Linked DNA regions of Homo sapiens: region 1 is linked to region 2. The links come from fine-mapping of genetic effects on gene expression. A gene starts in region 2. The other region holds a variant in brackets. All regions are shown on one strand. Distances are from middle to middle.

Evidence for each region. PIP is the estimated chance that this variant, and not a neighbour inherited with it, causes the effect. A credible set is the group of variants that fine-mapping cannot tell apart.
Region 1: its variant is the best candidate, but not a certain one, in a credible set for the expression of PURG in caudate (GTEx, PIP 0.61).

What each region holds. Positions count from the first base shown.
Region 1 is chr8:30,969,591-30,974,969 of GRCh38, reverse strand. No RefSeq gene overlaps it. Among named protein-coding and RNA genes, the nearest start is that of TEX15, 59 kb to the right of the region's middle. The variant C/T (reference allele first, on the strand shown) is at 2,797.
Region 2 is chr8:31,030,361-31,035,739 of GRCh38, reverse strand. PURG (purine rich element binding protein G) reads left to right here and starts at 2,384. Exons shown (of 2, transcript NM_001323311.2): 1 at 2,384-2,662; 2 at 2,952-4,890. The coding sequence starts at 2,958. The coding sequence ends at 4,001. It overlaps WRN (WRN RecQ like helicase), which reads right to left and starts at 1,930. Exons shown (of 35, transcript NM_000553.6): 1 at 1,767-1,930. RefSeq lists enhancers at 773-822, 1,656-2,177 and silencers at 893-962, 1,933-2,192, 2,353-2,402.

The sequences.
Region 1 (5,379 bases), 61 kb after region 2:
CATCCATGTAGCATGAATCAATAGTTTGTAAAGAAGGCTTTTTAAATATCCAAACATCAGATAAATTCTGTGTGAGGTGATGAATAAGGTATATTGAAGATAAACTGTAATTTAGTTATGTACTTAAATATCTTATTTTGATAGTGTCAAAGTAGGAATTTTTTATTTGCACATTTTGATAGACAGCCATATAATTTACGTTCAGAAAATGATAATTAAAGAGAAAGGCTAAATTAAGTAGAACATATTTTACACTTTATGTATATAAGTAGGACATATTTTATACTTTAAATTTGGTGATATATTTCTCCATTTTGGCAAATTCATAGATATCATGTGTCAAAAGACAAAACTACAAAAATTTCACTTGAATATCTTTTTTTTTTTTTTGAGATGGAGTCTTGCTCTGTTGCCCAAGCTGGAGTGCAGTGGCACCATCTTGGCTCACTGCAAGCTCCACCTCCCAGGTTCATGTCATTCTCCTGCCTCAGCCTCCCAAGTAGCTGGGACTACAGGTGCCCACCACCATGCCCAGCTAATTTTTTTGTATTTTTAGTACAGATAGGGTTTCACCGTGTTTGCCAGCATGGTCTCGATCTCCTGACCTCGTGATCCGCCCGCTTCAGCTTCCCAAAGTGCTGGAATTACAGGCGTGAGCCACTGCACCCGGCCTCACTTGAATATCTTAATTGGCAGCTGCTTCTGAAATCCCAGCACTTTGGGAGGCTGAGGCAGGCAGACTGCTTGAGCCTAGGAGTTCAAAACTAGTCTGGGCAACATGGCAAAACCCTATCTCTACAAAAAATACAAAAATTAGCCAGGTGTGGTAGTGTGTGCCTGTAGTCCCAGCTACTCAGGAGGCTGAGGTGGGAGGATCACTTGAGCCCAGGAGGTGAAGGCTGCAGTGAGCCGTGATTGTGCTACTGCACTCCAGCCTGGGAAACAGAGCAAGATTCTGTAAAAAAAAAAAAAAAATCTTAATTGGCTTATTTGCAATTCTAGAATCCAACAACACTTCATTCAATTAAATAGAATAAATGTTCTAATGATCCAAGCAGACAAGTTTGGTTTTATAGACGGGGCTGAAGAAAACAGAAAGAAAGAACAAAAAGCATATTGGTCATTTCAAAGTTACTTTCCTTGTAAGGCAGGAACAAGAAAACAGAACATTAGAGAAATAACTGGTTAACATCCAGTTACCTCAGTTTACCTTTTGTTGTGAGAATTAAAGCAGAGGGAACTTTATCGTCATCCTGATTAAAACTGACCTGTCTGGAAAATTATGCTGTTACATCTCTCTCCTGATTTCTCAAAAGGTCAGATAACAATTTAATTTGGTTTGGTGATATGGAACCTTGGGCATGAGTGACACCATTTTGATTTTTAATTTGATCTGTTGGGGCTTAGCGCAGGAGCTTAGTCTAAAGCAATAACCTCCTATAATTTCTACTTAACACATGGACAGTTAATAGTTTTAATGTATTCCCAAAGAAAAAAATCGGAAGGACTGAAAAATTGGGTGCTTTAAAAATGAAGAGATTGCTTTTCTTTAATCAAATACCAGAGGTCTGGAAACTCATTTTAGAGTAAAACTATTCAGTTGCCTCATACATAAAGCAGAGTCATGGGTTTTCCATTGTGTAAAAGGAACATGAAAAATAACATGCCAATTGTCAGCTGCTCTTGGGGCACCACGCAGTGGTATCTTTCAACAGTTTGCTCCTAACTCTTCTCAGTTTTTCATAGGTCCCTTCAAGTTTCCTGGTTTTTACCCTCCTTTGACTTTCAGTTGCCTTCCCTCTCTCTATCCGTGAACTACTGTCTTAGCATCAGACACATCTTACCTAGAGAAAGATAATACAAGTAACCAGGCACAGAACACCTAAGCAACTTTTTCTTCAGAAACCTACAGTGACAACCAAATAATTGTTGGCTTTGCTGGACTGTACAGTACATAACTGAGTGAATTCAACTGCTCTAACGAAATACAGTATTCAGGGGAAAAAAAAGGAGTTATTTAAATCTAAGGCATGTGGGGTCTATTATTATTAGGTTTTTAATATCAAGTCACATGTTTTCCTAGGCATTTTGGGAACTCAAGTTTTAGCAAGCATGAGCTCTTCCACAGCATGTCTTATACATGGCTTTGACGTTCACCAACCTGGGTTCAAATTCCAGCTCTTCCTGCATATTAGCTGTGCGATCTTGGACAAATAATTTACCCTAGTCTCATTTCCTCATTGTATTGGATTGGTGCAGAAGTAATCATGGTTTTGCATTACTCTTTTTTTTTTTTTTTTTTTTGAGATGGAGTTTCATTCTTGTCGCCCAGGCTGGAGTGCAATGGCACCATCTCGGTTCACTGTACCCTCCACCTCCCAGGTTCAAGCAATTCTCCTGAGTAGCTCAGCCTCTCAAGTAGCTGGGATTACAGGTGCCCGCCACTACACCTGGCTACTTTTTGTAATTTTAGTAGAGACGGGGTTTCTCACCACGTTGGCCAGGCTGGTCTTGAACTCCTGACCTCAGGTGATTCACCCGCCTTGGCATCCCAAAGTACTGGGATTTACAGGCATGAGCAACCATGCCCAGCCTGCATTACTTTTAATGGCAAAACCACAATTACTTTTACATCAACCTAATACATTGAACACAATATAATGCTCACTTCATTAGCTTATTGTGGGATTAGATGTGGAATAATGGCTGGCACATAGCAAACATTTAAAGAATAATAGCTTCTGTTACCACCAGCAGCACCACTGTCCATCACTGGGCTAGCAGTCTGTTCATTGG[C/T]AAATCTTAAGTTGTTCCAGCCGATGCAAAAACAATTATTCATTGTAGTCAATTCATTAACAAATATTTTTTAGAAACGGGCAAACACCAGTTGTCTGTTAGTTTTTTTTTCCCCTGCTACTGTTCGGCAGACTATTTTTGGCATTACAGAGGAATAGCAATGAAAATGAACTTTTCTTTCCTTCCCCCCAGTGTTTTCTCTCTTTGTGAAAATTGCTGCCAGCATGAATAGTCACTTAAACAGCAAGGGATGGTTCTTGTGTCTCAGGCAATGCCTGCCTGTTCTGGACATTATTGGCCCACTGATTAGATAGCGGTAAAAACAGGTCAGCGTAAAAGTTTAGCATTTGCATTTGAGGTTTCCTTTCTCATTCTCATCACTATATGGCAGAAAGTTGTTGGAGTGAAGGAAATTTATTCATTAAAAATTGCTTCTGTCTTTAATTTCTGCCCATTTGTACCTTGATAGGATAATTTCAAACAAACTTTGCTTTTTCTGTGAAGATGAAGCAAATTTGTTGTGGTCTTTGACTTGTATGTCATATTTGACCTGTATGACCTGTATGTCCTACTTGCACAAAATCCAGGCTACATCTTCCATGTTGTTGTTGTTGTTGTTGTTGTTGTTGTTGTTGTTGTTGTAGAGTCTCACTCTGTCGGCCAGGCTGGAGTGCAGTGGCACAATCTCGGCTCACTGCAACCTCCACCTCCCTGGTTAAAGCGATTCTCCTGCCTCAGCCTCCTGAGTAGCTGGGATTACAGGTGTGCACCACCATGCCTGGCCAATTTTTATACTTTTAGTAGAGATAGGGTTTCGCTATGTTGGCCAGAGTGGTCTTGAGCTCCTGGCCTCAGGTGAGCCGCCCACCTTGGCCTCCCAAAGTGTTGAGATTACAGGCATAAGCCACCACGCCCGGCCCCATCTTGTTTTTAAATTTAAAGAATGCCATTCTTTGTGTGTTGTATGTTATAAACAATGTTCCACGTTAGGGTGAGGGAATAGCAGCCATTCTGAAGAATGATGCTTTTAATCCCAGACATGAGCTTCTTGACCACAGAACTTCCTGCATTTTCAAGCTTGTGGAAGTAAGAGTGAATGCCCTTCCTTGGGAAATCTCACCTTATGTCTTTATTCCTCACTTCTCTGCATCTTTTCACCAAAAGCAAAATCTCAGCTTGATGAATTTCTCACTTGGAAACTGTTCATTTACAATATTTGCAACTTGTTTTTAGGATCAGCTTGTTGATTTTTCACTACTGTGCCCCTGACACCTACCACATAAGTATTTGTTACATGAAAATAATAATGCTGAACGATTTATTATGTTTTAAAGAAAGATATGTAAAATGTAGGCATTTGATCAAGGAGAATTCTGAGAGAGAAATTACTTGAGTACTTGTAAGTAAGACAACACAATCTTGCAAATTACCATTCTTCTACTTGCTTCGGTGAAGTGATGATTTATTAAAGACAAATGTAAGAGGTTCAATTAGTAGCTATGCTAAGCGCTTGCTAAAATAGGAGATGACTCCCTTTTTTTGGACTGGGCCTAATTTGGATTCTTTAAAATAAATTATAGAAAAATTTTTAAAATGCTGAAAGACTCGGAGACTAGTAAAAAAAAAATTGTACCTATTTATTCTCTAACCGAAAAAAAAATTAACCAACGTTTAGATATTATCACATTATTTTAGCTTTCTGCCTAAGGGAATCTTTACTTTTTTCACTTGTTCAGTTAGATGTAGCTCTCTCTACGTTCCATCAAAAAGACAAAAACAGTTTTGTTTTGTTTTGTTTTGTTTTGTTTTGTTTTGTTTTGTTTTGTTTTGTTTTGTTTGAGATGGAATCCTGCTCTGTTGCCCAGGCTGGAGTGCAGTGGTGCAATCTGGGCTTGCTGCAATCTCTGCCTCCTGGGTTCAAGCGATTCTCCTGCCTCGGCCTCCCGAGTAGCTGGGACTACAGGTGCCTACCACCACGCCTGGCTAATTTTTTTGTGTTTTTAGTAGACACAGGGTTTCACCATGTTGGCCAGGCTGGTCTCGAACTCCTGGCCTCAAGTGATCCACACCCCTCCCCCAGCCTCCCAAAGTGCTGGGATTACAGGTGTGAGCCACTGCACCTGGCCTAGTTTAACAAATTTATTGGCTGTATATTGAGTTTTTTCCCAAGAGAATTTATCAATGGATAGACAAATTGTAGTTTGCTATGCAATGGTATAATATGCTGAATGGAATACTTACTCAGGAGTGAAAAAGACCAAATTACTGATTGAGAAATTACTTGCTCTGGCAACATCCCCCTCAAAGGACTGTTATGACAGTTTGACCACAAAAAAAACATTGTTCCAGGCGATGGCTAGCCACAGAAAGCCCTCCGCTCCCAATACTGAACACTCTTTTCTCTTTTTTCTGACACAGGGTCTCACTCTGTCACCCAGTCTGGAGTGCAGAGGTGTGATCAGAGCTCACTGCAGCCTGAAATTCCTGAGCTCAAACAATCCTCTTGCCTCAGCCTCCCAAGTACCTAGGACTACAGGTGCATCACCATGCCTGGCTAATTTTAAAATTTTATGTGGAGACAGG
Region 2 (5,379 bases):
TAAAGCTGTTTAAAAAAGAATTCTGAGTGGAATTGGCCAGATACAAAAAAGACTAAGATGGCAAATTTTATGATATCTTACTCCAATTTTTTAGAAACATAATTCAGATCACGTTTCCCTAACAACTCTCCAACAGCTTCCCATCTCCCTCAGAATGAAAGCCCCAATTTTCAATATAGCCCATAAAGTCCTACACATTCTGGCCCCTTTCCCTTTCTGGCCTGACCTCTGACCTCCTCTCCGCTCTGCTCCAGCTCACTAGGCCTCTTAAGTTGCTCTCTGAACATAAAGAGGCAGGTTCCCCCAGGGCCTTTGTACTTTCTTCTCCTCCAGAGAACGTCAAGGTAAGTTCTCTCACTTCCTTGAGCTCTGGACTCAAAAATTCCCTTCTCAGCGAGGACGTCCCTGACCACTTATTGTAAAACTGCAGCTCCCTACAGCCCCCCACCCACAACACACACACACACTCTTCATCCCCCTTTCCTTTTTAATCTCTATTTTCACCTTCTGTCATCCTATAATTTTACTTTTTGCCTGTCTCTTTCCACTAAAATGTAAGCTCCAAAAGGAGAGAGATGTTTGTCTGTTTTGTTCATTGTTGGTATCTCTAGTGCCTAGAGCAGTCCTTAATAAACATTTGTTGGATTAATAAAGGGAGACCACTGTGGGGGAAAAAAAATAAAAGAAAATAAAATTTTAGCTGAAGAATGCAAGCCCCTTTAAATTATCAGGCCCAGAGAGGCATTAGAATGAAAAAACAGTCCCGTCTCACTCCCGGTCTGAGCTGGATAATTATCTCTTAAAGCCCACCTGCTATATGGGCTCTAGACTGGAACCAAGAAGCCATAAAATGCCATATGCTGGACACGATAACTCATACCCTATGAGTTACAGTGTACAGCCAATCACTAAGCAATGGTATCTCTGTAAACCAATAACAATTCCTGACCAACTTTGTCTCAGCCCACTCTTCCCCTTCGCCTTTAAAAACCTGCTTGTAACCAAGGCTGAAGGAGCACTCCCCAAGGCAACTGGGAAATGAGTCCTGGGCAGCTGTCCTCATTTTGGCTGAAGTAAACACTTTAAATTATAATTTTGTGCCCCAGCCTCTTCCTTTTAGGTAGACACCACTATTCAATGACATCAAGATCTGAACTGTCCTACTTATCCCAATATCCCACCCCTAAAAAGAAATGTACCGAACCATAAAAAGCCTGAAGTACTCCGACTTACAGACTCCTGTATTAGCATCCTAAGAATTATATTACCCTCTTCAATAGGGAGTAGTATTTTTCATATCAAACCTAGCCTGAGAACAACTGAGATTCAACTAGGAAAAAAAGAAAAGAAAATCCATTAAAGACTGAGTGATTTGAACTCAAAAATATCCATCATCACTTGCTAAATCATAGACAGCAGGTTATTTCCCTCGACTTTGCTGTGCAGACCTGTAGTGGCTCAATTTCTGCCATAATAAAGGCCGTACTAGAAAGAGCAATCCTAACTAAGCGCGCAAGGTAAACATCAAGCTGGGGCCGTCAGGGGCGGGGAAACACTTTCTGAATGGCGGAAGCTCCGAGAGACGCCTTTCCCAGCTGCTCCAGAGGGGAAAGGAAAAGGGAGAAAGTCTGTTTTTCCAGAATCTCCCAAACACAGCCCAGGGGCCTGCTCCGCGGGCCTAAGCGCCTCCACGTGTCTCAGAAGCCTAGCACTATAGATACCCCGGGGCACGGAGCTGGGAAAACGGGAATAGGAAGACACTTTACCCCGAGAAGATCCAGTCCAACAGGTCTTCTTCAGCCGGATGACTGTGGAGCGCCACCACAAGCAGGGCCTGCAACCCAGGCATCCAGGCTAGACACCAAATCAGCAAACTTTATTCCCGCGCTGCCGAGTACAAGCCGGCGCCTCCCCGGCGCACACAGTACACATCAGCTCCGGGAGACCTACCCGACCCGCCCCTCCAGCGCCGTCCCCGCCCCCGTTCCTGCCCCACCCCTTTCCCCGCCCCCGGCCCGGCTCGCCTTTCTCGCGGCGCTGCAACCCTCCCACCACAGCCCATCCAGCCCCGCCCAGCGCGCCGCGGTGCGCATGCGTGGAGGCCCTCGCTGCCGCTGAGCACCTCGGGAAGTGTAGTCTCTTCGCAGGTGCGGCTGGGCAGCTAGAGTCCTGCATCCCGGTGGAATCCGGAGAAGTGAGAACATTCCCGCCGCCCGGTCCTCATTCCCATCTTCCCACCTGTCCAGTCCCCTCGCACTCCCGCTGCACCCCACGCGCCGGGCTTCAGTCAGAGAGTGCACTGAGGAAGAGCGGAGACCCCCTCTTCCCCTCAGCAGGCTGTGCCGGGGGAGGCGGGGTCCACCGCCCGCCCCCCGCCGTCGCTCTCCCCGCCTCCCCTTCCCTCCCCTCCTGGCGGGTGCGGGGCCGGTGTCCGAAGTCAGGCGGCGGCCCCCGCAGCGGCCGCAGGAGGGGCGGCTGCGGTGGGCGCCGCGGGCGATGCCCCTGCCCGGCTGCTCCGGCGGGGGGCAGTGCGAGCGGCGGCGGCGGGGGAGGAGGCGGGGGGCGGCGGCTGCGGCGGCTGCAGCAGAGGGGCCGAGAGCTGGCGGTGGCGGCGGCGGTGGTCGTGAAGGGCATCGGCGGCGGCGGTGATGGCAGAGATGATGTGAGTGCCCGCCGGCTGGAGACCTGGGGCCGCGGAGCGCGGGACGGGCGGCGGCGGCGTGCGGGAGCGGCCCCGGGGGCGGCGGAGGGATGCGGGGAGCGCGGGCAGAGCCGGAGCGGCGGCCGCCAACCGGCCGGCAGTGGCTGGAGCCCCGCGCTGCGGCGCCGGGGGAGCCGGGCCCGGCGTGGGGGTCGCGGGCGGCGGCGGGGCGGTCAGGCCGAGGGGCGTCTGCGATTGTTCTCAACACCCCTCCCCCACCCCATCCCGTGTGTCTGTTTGTTACTTGCAGCTGAAGATGGAAAGAGCCAGGCGAAGGGGAGGCGGCGGCGGCCGCGGCCGCGGAGGCAAGAATGTAGGGGGCTCTGGCCTAAGCAAGAGTAGACTCTATCCCCAGGCCCAGCACTCCCACTACCCCCACTACGCGGCCTCAGCCACCCCTAATCAGGCCGGGGGCGCAGCCGAAATCCAGGAGCTGGCCTCCAAACGAGTGGACATCCAGAAAAAGAGGTTTTACCTAGACGTGAAGCAAAGCTCCCGGGGCCGCTTCCTAAAGATAGCCGAAGTCTGGATAGGGAGAGGCCGGCAGGACAACATCAGAAAGAGTAAACTGACCCTCTCCCTGTCTGTGGCAGCGGAGCTGAAGGACTGTCTAGGGGACTTCATCGAGCACTATGCCCACCTGGGCCTGAAAGGCCACCGGCAAGAGCATGGCCACAGCAAAGAGCAAGGCTCCAGAAGGAGGCAGAAGCACTCGGCACCCTCCCCACCAGTCTCGGTGGGGTCCGAAGAGCATCCTCACAGTGTCCTGAAAACAGACTATATCGAGAGGGACAATAGGAAATATTACCTAGACCTAAAGGAAAATCAGCGGGGTCGCTTCCTACGGATTAGACAAACCATGATGCGGGGGACTGGCATGATAGGTTATTTTGGCCACAGTTTGGGCCAAGAACAGACTATTGTCCTCCCAGCACAAGGAATGATTGAGTTTCGTGATGCCTTGGTTCAGCTGATTGAAGACTATGGCGAAGGAGACATAGAAGAACGAAGAGGTGGAGACGATGACCCGCTTGAACTCCCAGAGGGGACTTCTTTCAGAGTGGACAATAAAAGGTTCTACTTTGATGTGGGCTCTAATAAATATGGAATTTTCCTGAAGGTAAGTGAGGTGAGACCACCTTACCGTAATACTATTACTGTTCCATTCAAAGCTTGGACAAGGTTTGGGGAGAATTTTATCAAGTATGAAGAAGAGATGAGGAAAATTTGCAACAGCCATAAAGAAAAGAGAATGGATGGCAGAAAGGCCAGTGGTGAAGAACAAGAATGCCTCGACTAGAGTGAAATTGAACTCCATCAGGCAAAATTTAAAATCACAAATTGGCTAAAAGTACTGATCCATTATCCTTTGAAGAAGTTTTTCCTCTTTTTTGGCCCGTTGTTATTAGTAATACCTCTAGTAGTTGATACTTCAGGAAGTCTGATTCTCATGTTATGTTACACATAGATCACTATAATTCTTACGGGAATTCCAACCTTCCCAGAGCTAAATAGTTTAGCTGCTTCAACTGCTCCAGACTATTGAAGTATGCAAATCAGCACAAAATGTGACATTCTGACATTCTAAATACCATAACTAAGATTTACATTGCACTATGACATAATCCCGAAAAAAGATACATATACTTAAATAGAAGTGTGACTTTCCCCCAAAAGTATTTCAATTCTACTTCATTAAAAGCTGCTAAGCTTACCTGTAGGGCAGTTACCACAGAAACAGAAATTGACCTCCGGTATATATAAATATTTACTTATAAAAGTACAAGTAGACGTATATTGTCCGTTGAATAACTGAATATACCATCAAAGGATCAAATCTTATTACCTAATTAAACCTTAAAAATATAATGTCATAATATTTCTTAAGAATACTATAGTATTCTATAATTTCAAACTTTGTGGTAACCCTACATTTTATAGTTGCCATATCAAAGCCATGGGAGAGTTTTAATTCGTTATTCTAAGTTTAGTTACAATCCCTTCTTTACCTCTACTTAATGTTCCATATATTTTTATTGACTTTCCAAAGTTTCAGGAATTACTTTTATGTCACATTGAGTGGGAGGCTTCATCCAATGGCTTTGCTATGGAAATCTTGGTGGTGTAGCTTTTCATGCTAATTTAAAGATTGCAAGAGGTTTCTTCCCCAAAATATATCATGGACTCAAGGTGTTATACTTTATGCTTCTTCTTTAACACTCTTTCAGAAGGGTTGGTGTACCAATTAACTGATATAAAAATATACCTGTAATAATATATTTTAGTAGCACTTTTGCAATTGCTACCCTTAAAACCATGTCAACACTTCCAATATAATCCTGAATTTTACAGGTGTTTTAATTCTGGAGGGGGTGGGGATTTTTTTTTTCTAAAAATAATTTAGAATACAAATTTCCAGTCTGAGAAAAATATTATTTGAAGATTGGTTATAAATATATTTGAAAGGAAAATTCAGGCATTTTCCAAGGTGCTCTTTCTGACTTTACACAAGACTCACCCATTTACCTGTATTAAAAATTACTTTCCAGGAAGTGCCACAGCAATTTTTCAACACCTAAGCAATTTTTTAAACAAGTGGATATAGTGTTATATGTGTACCAACCCATCCTGTATTAATTGACTGAAATTACATCTATTCAGCTATATTTTCTTCTGAA